Linked DNA regions of Homo sapiens. The protein of the gene in region 1 purifies or fractionates together with the protein of each later gene. This does not show direct contact. Each region holds a gene or a part of one and is shown in the gene's direction. Other genes may lie near its edges.

What was found.
Region 2: the proteins of EVA1C (region 1) and TMEM192 purify together in Homo sapiens (affinity purification with mass spectrometry; 4 studies listed by BioGRID and IntAct, with this or other methods). This does not show direct contact.

What each region holds. Positions count from the first base shown.
Region 1 is NC_000021.9:32,450,706-32,454,205, forward strand, and holds part of EVA1C (protein eva-1 homolog C isoform 1 precursor), read left to right. Parts: intron 1-508; exon of another isoform or gene 509-658; intron 659-2,606; coding exon 2,607-2,803; intron 2,804-2,810; exon of another isoform or gene 2,811-3,500. UniProt on the Homo sapiens protein: Binds heparin.
Region 2 is NC_000004.12:165,095,861-165,099,360, reverse strand, and holds part of TMEM192 (transmembrane protein 192), read left to right. Parts: intron 1-3,500.

The sequences.
Region 1 (3,500 bases):
CAGTACTCATTGTTTTATGAGGGCCTGCCTGTGTGCCAGGCGGGAAGACACTGACCAGAGGCCCAGGGCCACTGAGGGGTCTTGGCCTGGTCTCTTGGTGCCTGGGGGGTACACTGTGCAAGCAATGATGTAGTTCCAAGGGGCAGGACTCTGACCCACACTCCTGGTGCCAATGTCCGTTTTGCCACTCATGTTAGATTTTGCTTCTCTAAGTGAACTTACTCAGGATAGCTGGGTTCTTGGCCATTCTTCCAGTGGTTTTCAAGGGTGAAAAAAGGAGTTTCAGCAAGACAGCTAACGTCTGGATGAACGTGCCAGGAAATGTCTGTAGCCTTCCTCTAGAGAGCACTCTGGGCTGGTGGGCGTGAGGACCCCAGGGCAGGCTGGCTCAGCCCCTTTGACTTCAGATTTCAGGGAAGGCCAGGGAGCTGGATTGGGCGCCTGGATTTTCCGAGAATTATGTTTCTGAGAGGATTTTGAAACCTAAACAGGAATACTTTACACACAGGTCATCGAGCAGGAATCGGGAAGTTCCTAAGCTGCCCTCCTTCACGCCACCTCCTCCCTTCAGAGACCAAGGGCTGCCAAGCTGTCTCCCACACACCTCAGTGAAAAGTCCCTGGCTCTCCTCCCAGCCGCCTCGCTGTGACCTCGTGAGGTGTGAGAAGGAGGAAGGGGATCTACATTCTGGATGAACCTTCCTTCCTCCTTGCCGAGAAATAGTTTAGGCCCCTGCGCCTGCTGGGCCTCAGAGCTTCTCAGAGCCCAGGGCTGAGTGTGGCTCCTGCAAGCTGCCTGGGAATTCCATGGAGTCTGACTGGCTGCCTGTCTTATTCACAGTCTGCTGCAACCCCTTTCCTAAGCTTGGGTGGCTGAAAACAACAGAAATTCATCCTCTCACAGTTCTGGAGGCCACAGTCTGAATCCAGGTGTTGGCAGGGCTGTGCTGCCTTTGAAGGTTCTAGGGAAGAATCCTTCCTGGCCTTTTCCAGCTTTGGGTGGTGGCCGGCAACGCTCGGCATTCCTTGGCTTCAGGTGCATCATTCCAGCTGCAGATGGCTGTCTTCCCTCTGTGTCTCTTCTTTTCTTCTTATAAGGACACCGGTTATATGGTGTTAAGGGCCCACCTTACTCCAGTATGTCACCAACTTAATTCATTACATCTGCAACCACCCTATTTCCAAATGTCACATTCTGGGGTTCCTGATGAACGTGAATTTGAGGGGACATCATTCAACCCACAGCAGAGCCCCACCATCGCCTCCCTGCACCACGCCCTTGGAGCAGGCCCCTTCTCTACGCAGGGCACCCTGCCTGTCTTTCCTCTCCAGCAGCAAGACAGAGCCAAGAGTGATTTCTTGAAATGAAATTGCATCCTCTCATTCCAATAAGGCATGGCCTCACTAGTGGGAGATGAGCAAATGAAAGCCTCCCTCAGGATGGGCATCCACACATCCAGGGGACACTCACCCCGATTTTTTTCCTGGTTTATAAAGGTGCTTCAGGACTCCTTGGCTCCTGGCCAATATCTTAGTGCTTCCTGAAGGGGAAAGAGCCCTCCAAACCATTCAGTGGGCCATCCCAGACCGAGGTTTCTGACCCAGACATTGAAACAGGAGGAGTTCCCTTATCCCCCCTTGCAGGGCACGTGACAGGGGCATGGCTCGCTTCTCAGTACCCTGCTGCTCAAACCCCTAGAGGGGGCATGCAGATGGACAGGTCGTGGGGAGCGTTTTTGGGCTCCGACCCCACAGCAGCTTGTAGAATTGGGTGTTTACAGCTCCCGAAGCCCCAGTGGGCATGTGTTACAGTGGTCTCCTTCAGTTTTGCCATCTGCAGGCGGCTTGTGTTAATCAGCTCAATTAGACCCTCTGCCTTATCACAAAGACAGATGGCTTTCTGTATCCCAGGTTCTTGCCCTAGTGTACTCGGAAAATCAGATTTCGCATGGACTTGGAGAAGGAGTGCAAGGTTTTATTGAGTGGAGGAGGTGGCTCTCGGATGGGGAGCCAGAAGGGGGATGGAGTGGGAAGGTGGTCTTCCCCTAGAGTTGGGCTGCCCAGCAGCCAGACTCTCCTCCGACCGCCCCCGACTGATTTCCACATCGCCCCGCTGTCGAAAGCCCGCCAGCATCTGCTGGTGTCTGTCAGTGTGCTCTTCTGCTTCTCTGCTCCTCTCGACGTCCAGCCACTTGTGTGTGTGCCCACTAGGGTCTTGGGTTTTTTATGGGCACAGGATGGGGGTCATGGCAGGCCAGAGTAGTCTTGGAAAATGCAACATTTGGACATGAAAACAGGAGTGCCTGTTCTCACTAAGGTCCATGGGCACAAGCCCATGGGTGGAGCCCTCGCCAGGGACCCCACCCTTCTCTACCCAGCACTCCCCTGCCCCCCTTCCATGTCAACATGAAAGCTGACATTGGCTCCTGTGCCCCACCTCTGGGCCTGGTTTGGTGACCTCTGCACCAGAGCTGCTAGGGAGGCCCCATCCCACATGTTGTTGATTGAACAGCCCTTCCCCAGGGGAACCAACGTCCTCCTGTCCCCAAACCCATGGAGGAGTGGTGGGTTCCTGGGCCTCTAGTAACTCGACTGAATATTTTCCAGGTTACCTAACCAAACTCCTGCAAAACCACACCACCTATGCCTGTGATGGGGACTATTTGAATCTACAGTGCCCTCGGCATTCTACGATAAGTGTCCAATCGGCATTTTATGGGCAAGATTACCAAATGTGTAGTTCCCAGAAGCCTGCCTCCCAGAGGGAAGACAGCTTAACCTGTGTGGCAGCCACCACCTTCCAGGTATTGCCTTTTGTAGACATGTTAAGATGATACAGTTTCAACACACACTCTTTCTCTCTCTCTGGGTATAAATATATTTGTGATTATATAGTTCAATCCAAGCAAAACTGATCCATGAAAAATCCCAATTTATACAGATCACCAGTTTTGTAGGTGAGCTATTATTTGCTTCTCAAAGGATTTGTTGCCCAACAAAACTAAATAGAATTCCTACCTATTGTAGAGCCCCCTTTGTACACTTCAATATGAATTTATTTGTAGGTTTACTCCTTACTTTAGTATAGCAAAGTACAACCAGGATGGATTCCAACCTCCAGGCCCACATCTCCCATAAATACTCCTGTAGAAAGGGAAGGTAGGTTCTTTAATGGAAACCACAAGTATCTCTTTGAGGCAGACATCTGAAGTCATGACCAACTTTTTAGAAAATGTACTCAAAGGGCTGGGCGCGGTGGCTCATGCCTGTAATCCCAGCACTTTGGGAGGCCGAGGTGGGTGGATCATGAGGTCAGGAGTTCAAGACCAGCCTGGCCAATATGGTGAAACCCCATCTCTACTAATAATACAAAAATTAGCCGGGCATGGTGGCACGCACCTGTAGTCCCAGCTACTTGGGAGGCTGAGGCAGAAGAATCGCTTGAACCCAGGAGGCGGAGGTTGCAGTAAGCTGAGATCATGCCACTGCACTCTAGCCTGG
Region 2 (3,500 bases), on another chromosome or scaffold:
TAATCCCAGCACTTTGGGAGGCTGAGGTGGGCAGATCCCTTGAGGTCAGGAGTTTGAGACCAGCCTGGGCAACATGGAGAAACCCCTCTCTACTAAAAACACAAAAATTAGCCAAGTGTGGTGGTGTGCCCCTGTGGTCCCAGCTACTCTGGAAGCTGAGGTGGGAGAATTGCTTGAGCCGAGATCATGCCACTGCACTCCAGACTCCAGCCTGGGTGACAGAGTGAGACCCCATCTCAAAAAAAAAAAAAAAAAAAAGAAAGAAAAAAAGTTGTAGTAAATAACTTAGTTTCTACCTTTTAAAAAGATCCTGTTTTTCAATTTGAGTCCAGAATAAATCTTAAAAATTTTTGAATCCAGGCCAGGCTCGGTGGCTCATGCCTGTAATCCCAGCACTTTGGGAGGCCGAAGCGGAAGGATCACCTGACGTCAGGAGTTCGAGACCAGCCTGGCCAACATGGTGAAACCTCATCTCTACTAAAAATACAAACGAAAATTAGCCGGGTGTGGTGGCACGCGCCTGTAGTCCCAGCTACTTGGGAGGCTGAGGCAGGAGAATCGCTTGAACCTGGGAGGCAGAGGTTACAGTGAGCCGAAGTCATGCCGCTGCACTCCAGCCTGGGCAACAAGAGCGGAACACTGCCTCAAAAGAAAAAAAAACTTGAATCCATATGTAGTCTTCCTACTTGGAGGAGGCAGCGAGAAAAAGAAAAAGAAGGAAAAAGAAAAAAAAATTTTTTTTGAATCCAGGCTGGGCATGGTGGCTCATGCCTATAATCACAGAGCTTTGGGAGGCCAAGGTAGGAGGATTGCTTGAGGCCAGGAGTTCGAGACCAGCCTGGGCAACATAGTGAGTTCCCCCATCTCTACCAAAAATGAGAAATTTAGTGCTGTAACAAATGAGCACCAAGTTAAGTTTTAAAAAAAAAAAGAAATTCCTGGGCGTGGTGGCTCACGCCTATAATCCCAGCACTTTGGGAGGCCGAGGCGGGTAGATTCCCTGAGGTCAGGAGTTCGAGACCAGCCTGGCCAACATGGTGAAACCCTGTCTCTACTAAAAATACAAAAATTAGCTGAACGTGGTGGCGGGCAACTGTAATCCCAGCTACTCGGGAGGCTGAGGCAGGAGAATTGCTTGAATCCGGGAGGCAGAGGTTGCAGTGAGCTGCAATCATACCATTGCACTGCAGCCTGGGTGACAAGAGCGAAACTCTGTCTAAAAAAAAAATTAAGGCCGGGCACGGTGGCTCATGCCTGTAATGCTAGCATCTCAGCACTTTGGTAGGCTGAGGCGGGAGGATCACTTGAGGTCAGGAGTTTGAGACCAGCCTGGTCAACATGATGAAACCCCATCTCTACTAAAAATACAAAAATTAGCTGGGTGTGATGGCAGGTGGCTGTAATTCCAGCTACTCAGGAGGCTGAGAATCGCTTGAACCCGGGAGATCAAGATTGCAGTAAGCTGAGATCGTGCCACTCCAACCTGGGTGACAGAGTGAGACTCGATCTCTAAATAAATAAATAAATCTCTATTTCAAAATAAATAAATAAATAAGTAAAATAAAATAAAATAAATAAATTAGTCATGTGTGGTAGCCTGTGCCTGTAGTCCTAGCTACTTGGGAGGCTGAGGTGGGAGGATCCACTTGAGCCCAGGAGTTTGAGGCTGCAGTGAGCTATGATTATGCACCACACTCCAGCCTAGGTGAAAGAGTGACACCCCCCTCTATAAAAAAAGAAAAAAAAATTGGATCAAATTAGAGATTTTTTTCTCCAAAAAAAAAAAAAAAAGGCTCCACAGAATTTAACTTTTATTTTTCTTCTGTTCTGTTAGTGCATTTTCTTTTTTCTTTTTTTTTTTTTTTTTGAGATGGAGTCTCGCTCTGTCACCCAGGCTGGAGTGCAGTGGCGCTATCTCGGCTCACTGCAAGCTCCGCCTCCCGGGTTCAGGCCATTCTCCTGCCTCAGCCTCCCGAGTAGCTGGGACTGCATTCGCCCGCCACCACGCCTGGCTAATTTTTTGTATTTTTAGTAGAGACGGGGTTTCACCGTGTTAGCCAGGATGGTCTCGATCTCCTGACCTTGTGATCCGCCGGCCTCGGCCTCCCAAAGTGCTGGGATTACAGGCATGAGCCACCGCGCCCGGCCTGTTAGTGCATTTTCTTAAAGGGCATGCTGCAAGTTCATCTACTCAGTGAAATTCTCAGTGGAAGCTGAAGGGCTATGCTATATCAGCGTGAAGCAGTTTATAGAGTTGGGTGATCCTGACTGCTCTTGAAGGGGAAGCATTTATTGCTCCCTGCCTCTTGTGAGAATGAGCTTGAGAATGTTCAACTGTTGATGTGCAGCTCTCTCTTTTGGCCAGAAGATGTCAGGGTAACACAAAGATTAAAAAAAAAGAAAAAACTTAATTTTAAACTACAAAAGATCTTATATGATCTGTGACCAAAATAATACTCAGTTTCTCAAGTGATGGTCTGGAAATAGTATTTTGGAAGCTCACAAGGAGATTATTTGATCTTTACCTTTCCAAAATCTGCCTTTCAAATTTTTGTTAAACATGTGAGCCGTAATCATAATCTATTTCTGAACACTTGGACCTTTAGAATCACAGGTGATATCACGTTTATGTGGCTCATGTGAAAACCCAGAAAATCAAACGGAATGGAGCAGGTACTTACCTTATTTCTATTTTTTAAAATATTTTTTCTTATTTGCAAAAAAAAAAAAAGATAAATCTATGGAGATGTAGGATGTAGGACTTACAGATAACAGTACTGATAATATTAACTTCAGCCTGATATATTTTGTTATTTTCCAGAGAAGAAAAAAAATTATTTACCTTTGGGTGGAGATGGGAGAAAGGGCTTTGCTTTCCTACCAAGTGAAAATATTTACCTGATTAATCTGTTCTCCTTCCTTAGATCCAAATACATATATATATATATAATTTTTTTTTTGAGAGTCTTGCTCTGTTGTCCAGGCTGGAGTGCAGTGGTATGAACTCAGCTAACTGCAACCTCTGCCTCCCAGGTTCAACTGATTCTCCTGCCTCAGCCTCTCCAGGCTAGACTACAGGCACGCACCACCACACACAGCTAATTTTTATATTTTTAGTAGAGACGAGGCTTCACCATGTTGGCCAGGCTGGTCTCGAACTCCTAACCTCAGGTGATCCGCTCCCCTTGGCCTCCCATAGTGCTGGCATTACAGGCATGAGCCACTGCGCCCGGCCTAATAATATTTGAGTTCAAAATGTATTTGGGCCAGGTGCAGTGGCTCACGCCTGTAACACCAGCACTTTGGGAGGTCGAGGCAGGCAGATCACCTGATGTCAGGAGTCCAAGACAGGCCTGGCCAACATGGTGAAACCCTGTCTGTACTAAAAATACAAAAAAAAAAAAAAAAAATTAGCTGGGCATGACTGGGGTGGTGGTGGGCGCCTATAATCCCAGCTACTCAGGAGGCTGAGGCAGGAGAATTGCTTGAACCTGGGAGGT